Linked DNA regions of Homo sapiens. The protein of the gene in region 2 purifies or fractionates together with the protein of the main gene of each other region. This does not show direct contact. Each region holds a gene or a part of one and is shown on either strand. Other genes may lie near its edges.

Region 1 (3,500 bases), on a different chromosome or scaffold from region 2:
ATTTATAATAAACATATGAATCTGATCTTAGCCCTTGCTTTCAAAGACTGGGACATTACTCATTACCTTCAGAATAGGAAGAATACATTTTCATTTTGCTAGTCACTTTTCTAAAATGCATGTTCAAACCAAGATTTGGTTACAAAAACCTCATTTTTCAGTAGACTGACATAAGTTTAGAGAAGTCTTTCTTAGTATTCTCCAAGTAGCAACAGAACCAAATGTTTCTTCCTAGCCTTTCTGTATTTATTAAAAGACATAATGCAAATAATCACTTTCTAATTATTATTATTATTTTTGAGATAGGGTCTCACTCTGTCGCCCAGGCTGAACTGCAGTGGCACAAACACAGTTCCCTGTAGCCTCGAACTCCCTGGACTCAGGTGATCCTCCCACCTCAGTCTCCCGAGCAGCTGGGACCACAGTTGCATGTCACCATGCCCGGTTAATTTTTGTATATTTTTGTAGAGACGGGGTTTTGCCATGATCTGCCCATCTCAGTTTCTCAAAGTGCTAGAATTATAGGTTTGAGCCACCTGGCCCTCTAATTATTACTTTTTGCTTTTTGCTTTGTTTCATAATTTGGATTTTTATGTATAAAAATTTTCTTGGTCTTATATTTTTAATTACTCTAGGGAAAAAACTTTTTTGGCAACTGGATGAGATATTCATTATAAATGAATCACTAAAGTTCATTAAATACCTAAATGAGAAGGCAAAGGTTTACTCAGTAATAAATTTTAAAAGTATTCCAGTCTTTTTCATGTAGAGACTATTTAAGTATTTAAGAACACAGATCTTAAAAAAAGTAAAATTCTAAGAAATTACTCAATTAACAATGATCTTTCTTCAACCAACCTGCTCCCCACCCCAGATGTTTCTCACTTAAGAAATAGACAAGTTACACAAGAACAACTGGAAAACAGAAATTTTAAATATTTTGAAGCTGTTAACCAGGATATGGTTACTATTTTAAGATCAAATCTTAGAAAATTTCTGGACAAAAAATATAAAACCACACACCTGTAACATGATGAATGATGGAGACGACCAGATGGGGAAGCATGTAATGCAGAAGAGGACTGACATCGTAAGTTTCAGAAATCCCATGAAGTATTGTAATAAGATCAGGAACATTACATAAGTGAGGGAATGGCCTTTGAAGAAGCAAAAGTACATATCGTGTTGACTTTACAAGTTAGACAATGAGTAACAATATAAGAAAATATATAATCACTTATCTTACAAAAAAAAATTATTCAAAATAATTTTATTCACCTCTGACTAGCACCATTTCTCAATTCAATTGTACATACTTTTTCCCAAGGCTCTCTGGCTTCTGTCTCTGCAGGAGCACTATCAAGCAACTTAACCCATCCTTGATCAAAGAGGGAATCTTGGTCAATGTTTTGATGATCTGTGATGCCAATGAATTCACAAAGGTATTTTCCATGGTCACTTTCACAGAAATCTGACATATTATCATGTATGTTGCAGCTCTGTAATCTGGTAAAGATGATTTCAATCCCTAAATATTTTTTAAATATAAGGAAAAATGATAAACCATATTATTTTCTGCTACTTTAAATGTTAATCTGACAAATTAGAAATGTCATAGAGATTAATACAACCTAATGCATAGTCAATCACTCTTCAGACATAAACAATAAAGGAGCTGACCCCTTTTTCAGAGTGGATACAGAGATGAGACAAGTCTGTTGAACGAGACAAAGGATCTCAGAAAATTTCCCAACTCAAACATCTACCACATGTCCTGACAGGAGCCAGTAAGCTCTTCTTTTATACATAAAATCCTACTTATAGTAGGGAGACCTCAATCAGATCACTAATGGAAGAAACAAGTCTGATGAAAGGTCACAAGTTGGGACACTGGTGGGAAGTGAAAGCAGTACCTCCACAGGGCACCTGGGAAGGCAGCAGGCAAGAAGGCACTTGGGAAGGAGAAACGCTGAGAGGCAGGAGCCAGTGCACAAAGAATACTGAGAGGTTGCTTACGCCTCAAAGAGACTGTCTGCTCCGTCCTCCTTCCAGTGAGGTACAAAGACTGCTATGGAAATCAATCTAGGAGATGGCCGCAGGACCAGACAGCCAATATTTATTCTTAAGAGTCCTAATTAAGGTCCCAGGCCAGTGAGTTTCTAATAAAAAAGTGTCATATTTTCAACCTAAAGGCTAAATCTCAGCTATCATCTGAAATAAACTGTCAATTTAAAAACACTTAAATCTAAAAAAACTTTCGAAAGCAAGAAAATTCCTTTAAGTACAAAATAATCTACTTAACACATCAGCAGTGCCAACCTTTTGGATATAGGGAAATAGTTTGGCGATGATATTGTCTGATACGTCCTCTGCAGCTACCAGCGCCGACACTATGGTAGAAGCATAGAAAGCCAAGAGCACCCTCAACTGAGCTGAGCTGCCCGGGTACTCAGCAAAAACCTGAAACAAGGAACACAAACAAAACACATTTAACAGTGAAAGGGAGGTAGAAGGATTGCTTGAGGCCAGGAGTTCAAGGCTGAGATTTCAATGAACTATGATGGCACCACTGTACTCTAGCCTGGGCGACAAAGCAAGTCCATGTCTCCAAAAAAAAAAAAAGTGAAAGGCCAAATAAATATTTACAGCTCTCCTGAATTACCATATGCAACAATGAATACACAATGTGACAACAATTAACTGCCTAATGATATTCCTAACATTTTTATTTAAAAAAAAATTTTTTTTTTTTTTTTTTGAGATGGAGTCTCTGTCGCCCAGGTTGCAGTACAGTGGCATGATCTTGGGTCACTGCAACCTCCGCCTCCCAGGTTCAAGCGATTTTCCTGCCTCAGCCTCCCGAGCAGCTGGAATTACAGGCATGCCCCACCATGCCCAGTTTATTTTCGTATTTTTAGTAGAGACGGTGTTTCACCATGTTGGCCAGGCTGGTCTCAAACTCCTGACTTCAAGTGATCCGCCTGCCTTGGCCTCCCAAAGTGTTGGGATTACAGGCGTGAGCCACCGCACCTGGCCTTAAAATTTTTTAAACAGCTTTCCCAGGTTGAATATTCCCGACATTTCTAGACACTCTCTTTGAATAGTCACTGTAACTAGAATCTGGCAAGGAATAGACATTTATTTTTGTAGAAAAACACCTTTGGTGATAAAAGACTGATTCTTAAAAAAAAAAAAAAAGATACGGACTCTCAAACTGCTCCTGCTTCAAAACACCAGACCATTTAACAAAATAAATTTATCCAAAGTATCATTGTTATTAGGGAATGTTTTAGTATGTTTTCTTCATTCAAAGCAAGCAATCTTTTCATAAAATTATATACTCATGAAACAGACTGCTCACCTTCACAGATTTTGTCACCAAACTGCAAATGAAATCCATGAATCCAAGATCTTTGTAGCAGTGGGTAATCAAAGTTCCTTTAGCTAACGGCACTCCAGATTGCTGTTATTGATGGAAAGAACAAACTACTAGCAACATT
Region 2 (3,500 bases):
ATATAAGCTATACTTCTGATTTTTGTTTTATGTTTTTATCAAGTCACTACAAAACTGGATCACATATTTAGACTTATTTAGCAGAAAATCATATTTTCTTTCAAGTTAATCAGAATTAAAGAAGTAGGCTTTGTTGACTATAGAACCATGGGAGTGTCTTGTCAAGCAAAGGCAAAATATAAATTTAGGAGAGGTATGGGACAGTGGTAAACATGAGTTCTCTTTGGAAAGAAAGAACCAAGTTTCTAGGGCTGTTATTTGAAATATGTACTGATTATATTATATAGACTTAACAGTGATACACATAAAGAATCCCTTGCCAGACAAACAAGAAACTAATAACTAGAGTCTACTTGGAGGAGACTGGAGGAGAGTTAAGAACTGGATAAATGGAGAAGAATGGGGGGGAGAAATATTTTTATGCTATACAATTTTACACTACTATTTTTTGAATCATATGAATGTATTTTCTTTTTATTTAAAAGAGAAAGAGAAGGTGGCTTGGTACTGATACTTCCTTTATATCCTTGTAGCAATGAGTGTCCGTGTCTATATCTGATATGAGCAGAGGAAGCACCTTGAAGCTCTGAGGGATGAGGAATTAAATAGTTTTTATTGATAAATGCTGTCTGTTCACTGCTTGTGAGGGTGTGGATATTTCAGAGAAACAAAGCAAATGTGTAACTCATATCCTTCGACATCTGTCAATTTTTTATTTGTTATCTGAATTAACTGTGTGTAAAAATGAAATTAAATGTTTTCTTTAGAGCTAGAAATGGTAGCTCATGCCTGTAATTCCAGAGACTCAGGGGATTGAGGCAGGAGGATTAATTGAGCCCAAGAGTTTGAGATTTAAATGAGCCATGCATGATCACACCACTGCACTCAAGCCTGGCTACAGAGCAAGATCCCAACTTCAAAAAATGTTTTGCTTAAAAAATATGATGCACAGCTAAAAAAAATATATTAGACATGCTTAATACTGTAGGGGAGGTAGATCATGCCCACATAACCCATGGATCACAGTTCAGATGGATGTTTTGAATCTGTACTTGATCATGGGAGCAGAAGTCTCGGGTGGGAGGGGAGACTTTAAAATAATTTCAGTAACAGTTGAATGAAAGGACAAGAGCAGATCAGAGCTCTTTGCTGTATAATAGAGAAAAGAGAAACGCTGAGAGGAAGAGAAGGTTGGGAGGGTTCTTCCAACCTGAATATCAGCTAGGTAGATAGAGATAAACGGATGACTCAGAGAGGTAGCCATTTACTTAACTAGTGATCTGTAGAGGCGGTTTAAAATTCTGTGTGTACTTCATTTATTTTTTTTCATTCATTTTATTTTTTTCAAAAACCACTCAATCCTTAGGAATTACTCACAGCTGTGCTGTGTGCATTCTCTGTGGGCCTAGCAGGGAAGGGGACAGCCCTGTGGCAATGGGCATGACACGGATGCTCCTGGAATGCAGTCTCAGTGACAAGTTGTGTGGTAAGTACGGATTCCACAGATGTCTATCCTCTGATTTTAGAATTATGAAGGCTAAGGTCTCGGTAGATTCTAGAAGGAGGATGATTTGATTTCCAGTAGAAATGAAGACAGTGGTGATAAAAGGATGGGGACTAGAGGCCATTGTCTTTTTGGGGAGAGGGTAAGTGCTAATCAGTGATCCAGATGCTGCATCTTCAATCTTGGTAAGAAACTGCCAGAAGCAACGTCATGCACATTTGATGGGCTAAGAAACAGAGTCACTGGGGTTTCTGGTTAGAGAGTTGCTCCCAGCAGTGTTTCTGTTGAATGGAAGTAGAGGAGATGGTAGAAGAGATGACCTTTTCATGTATGATGAGCTGAGAGCTGGCGGGTAGGGGAAATTGCATGAACACCAGGTTAGGCTTCTTCATTCTCTTCTCTTCCTGTGTGATCGCCTACCCAGTCATCCAGGAGAAGCAGTATGAAGTGATTATCGTCCCAACTTTGTTGGTTACTATCTTCCTCATCCTTCTTGGGGTCATCCTGTGGCTTTTTATCAGAGAACAAAGAACTCAACAGCAGCGTTCTGGACCTCAAGGTAAAGCTCAAACTTTGGGGCTGGGCAGGGGCTTAAAGAAGATGGAGATTAGGAAAAAGTATGGTCTAAGTTTCAATGAGCCCATGTCTAGAAGTCTAGGTACCTGCAATGAGAGAGGCATGGGTTCCCTCCCATGGAGTTGAGAGGGGGATGATCTCTTTTCTAGGAATTCCCGAGTTGGAATTCAACACGTGCTTACTGACTGAAAAAAGAGTGTGCAAGAAAAACCTCATATAACCTGTTTCTATTCCTGTTGGACTATCAAAACTTTGACTATATGAGTGCCTAAGGACCTAGGAGAAAGACCTAAGGGGGTAAAGTCCAAGGCTTTATGAACATCCTAGGAGGATGACATATCACCCTATGATACGTTCCATTCCTAATCTTTGCCTCCAGGATATATGATGGAAAGGAGGGGCCTTTATATTATAACAGTCTTTGAAGTGCTAAGTAGATGATAACAGTCTGTTCTGGAGTTCCACTGAGCATATAATAAAAGGGAATCAATTCACAGATGAAACTCAGGGTAAAAAGAAGGAAAAAGAAAACTCTCATAATGATATGAAACTCTATAGTGGCTAATCCTTAGTTTTTCTTTAAATTTTATCCCAATAGTCTTATACTTCACTTTTATAGAAAACTTCTCAAACAAGTTGTCTAAACTCACTCCTACTACTTCTACTCATCACATTCTCTTTTGAACACACTAAAATAAGGTTTTCATCTCTACCACTTCGCCAAAACAAGTCTTTCCAAGGTCATCAATGACAGCTGCATTGAAAAGTCCAATGATCAATTCTTAGTCTTCGTCTTACTTGATCTGTCAAAAGCATTTGAAACAATTTTAAACTTTCTCTTTCTTGAAATACTGAAAAAACTAAAGCCACTTCCTAAATGCTATAATTTTTAGTCTTATGGATTCAAATACATTTTCTATTCCAATGATAGTCCCTTGAACTCAATTCTCATATTAAACCACCTACTGCACAGTTTCAATGGAATACAAATCTCATATGTAATATGACCAAAACAAAGGTCCTGAAATTCTCTCATAAATGTCCTCCGCAAATAGTCTTGCCTATCTTAGTAAATGGCAAGTCCTGTCTTCTGTGTTTTCAGTCTCAAACCTTGAAGATATCAGTCTCAAACCTTGAAACACAGTTTGAGACTGTGTTTTCAGTCTCAAACCTTGAAGATAACTCCTTTCTTTCTCTCACAGTCTGTATCTAATCCATAAGCAAACACTGTTACCCTATTTTCAAAATAAACCCAAGTTACTCTCACATCTCACTGATCACTGCAACACACTCTTAACATTCCCTGCTTCTGCCCCTACTCCTTTATAGAAATGCCAGAATGAGTCTTTTAATACAGTCAGTCCTGTTAGTTATCTGCTTGAAATCTCTCTTCCACACACACACATGCAGTAGCCTCCCA

Evidence for each region. Proteins that work in one complex are often made in the same cells at the same time.
Region 1: the proteins of STYK1 (region 2) and HEATR1 purify together in Homo sapiens (affinity purification with mass spectrometry; one large-scale study listed by BioGRID and IntAct). This does not show direct contact.

What each region holds. Positions count from the first base shown.
Region 1 is NC_000001.11:236,594,517-236,598,016, forward strand, and holds part of HEATR1 (HEAT repeat-containing protein 1), read right to left. Parts: intron 3,464-3,500; coding exon 3,362-3,463; intron 2,461-3,361; coding exon 2,320-2,460; intron 1,529-2,319; coding exon 1,317-1,528; intron 1,158-1,316; coding exon 1,024-1,157; intron 1-1,023. UniProt on the Homo sapiens protein: Ribosome biogenesis factor; required for recruitment of Myc to nucleoli. Involved in nucleolar processing of pre-18S ribosomal RNA. Required for optimal pre-ribosomal RNA transcription by RNA polymerase I.
Region 2 is NC_000012.12:10,632,553-10,636,052, reverse strand, and holds part of STYK1 (tyrosine-protein kinase STYK1), read left to right. Parts: intron 1-1,366; 5' UTR 1,367-1,434; coding exon 1,435-1,486; intron 1,487-1,928; coding exon 1,929-2,063; intron 2,064-3,500. UniProt on the Homo sapiens protein: Probable tyrosine protein-kinase, which has strong transforming capabilities on a variety of cell lines. When overexpressed, it can also induce tumor cell invasion as well as metastasis in distant organs.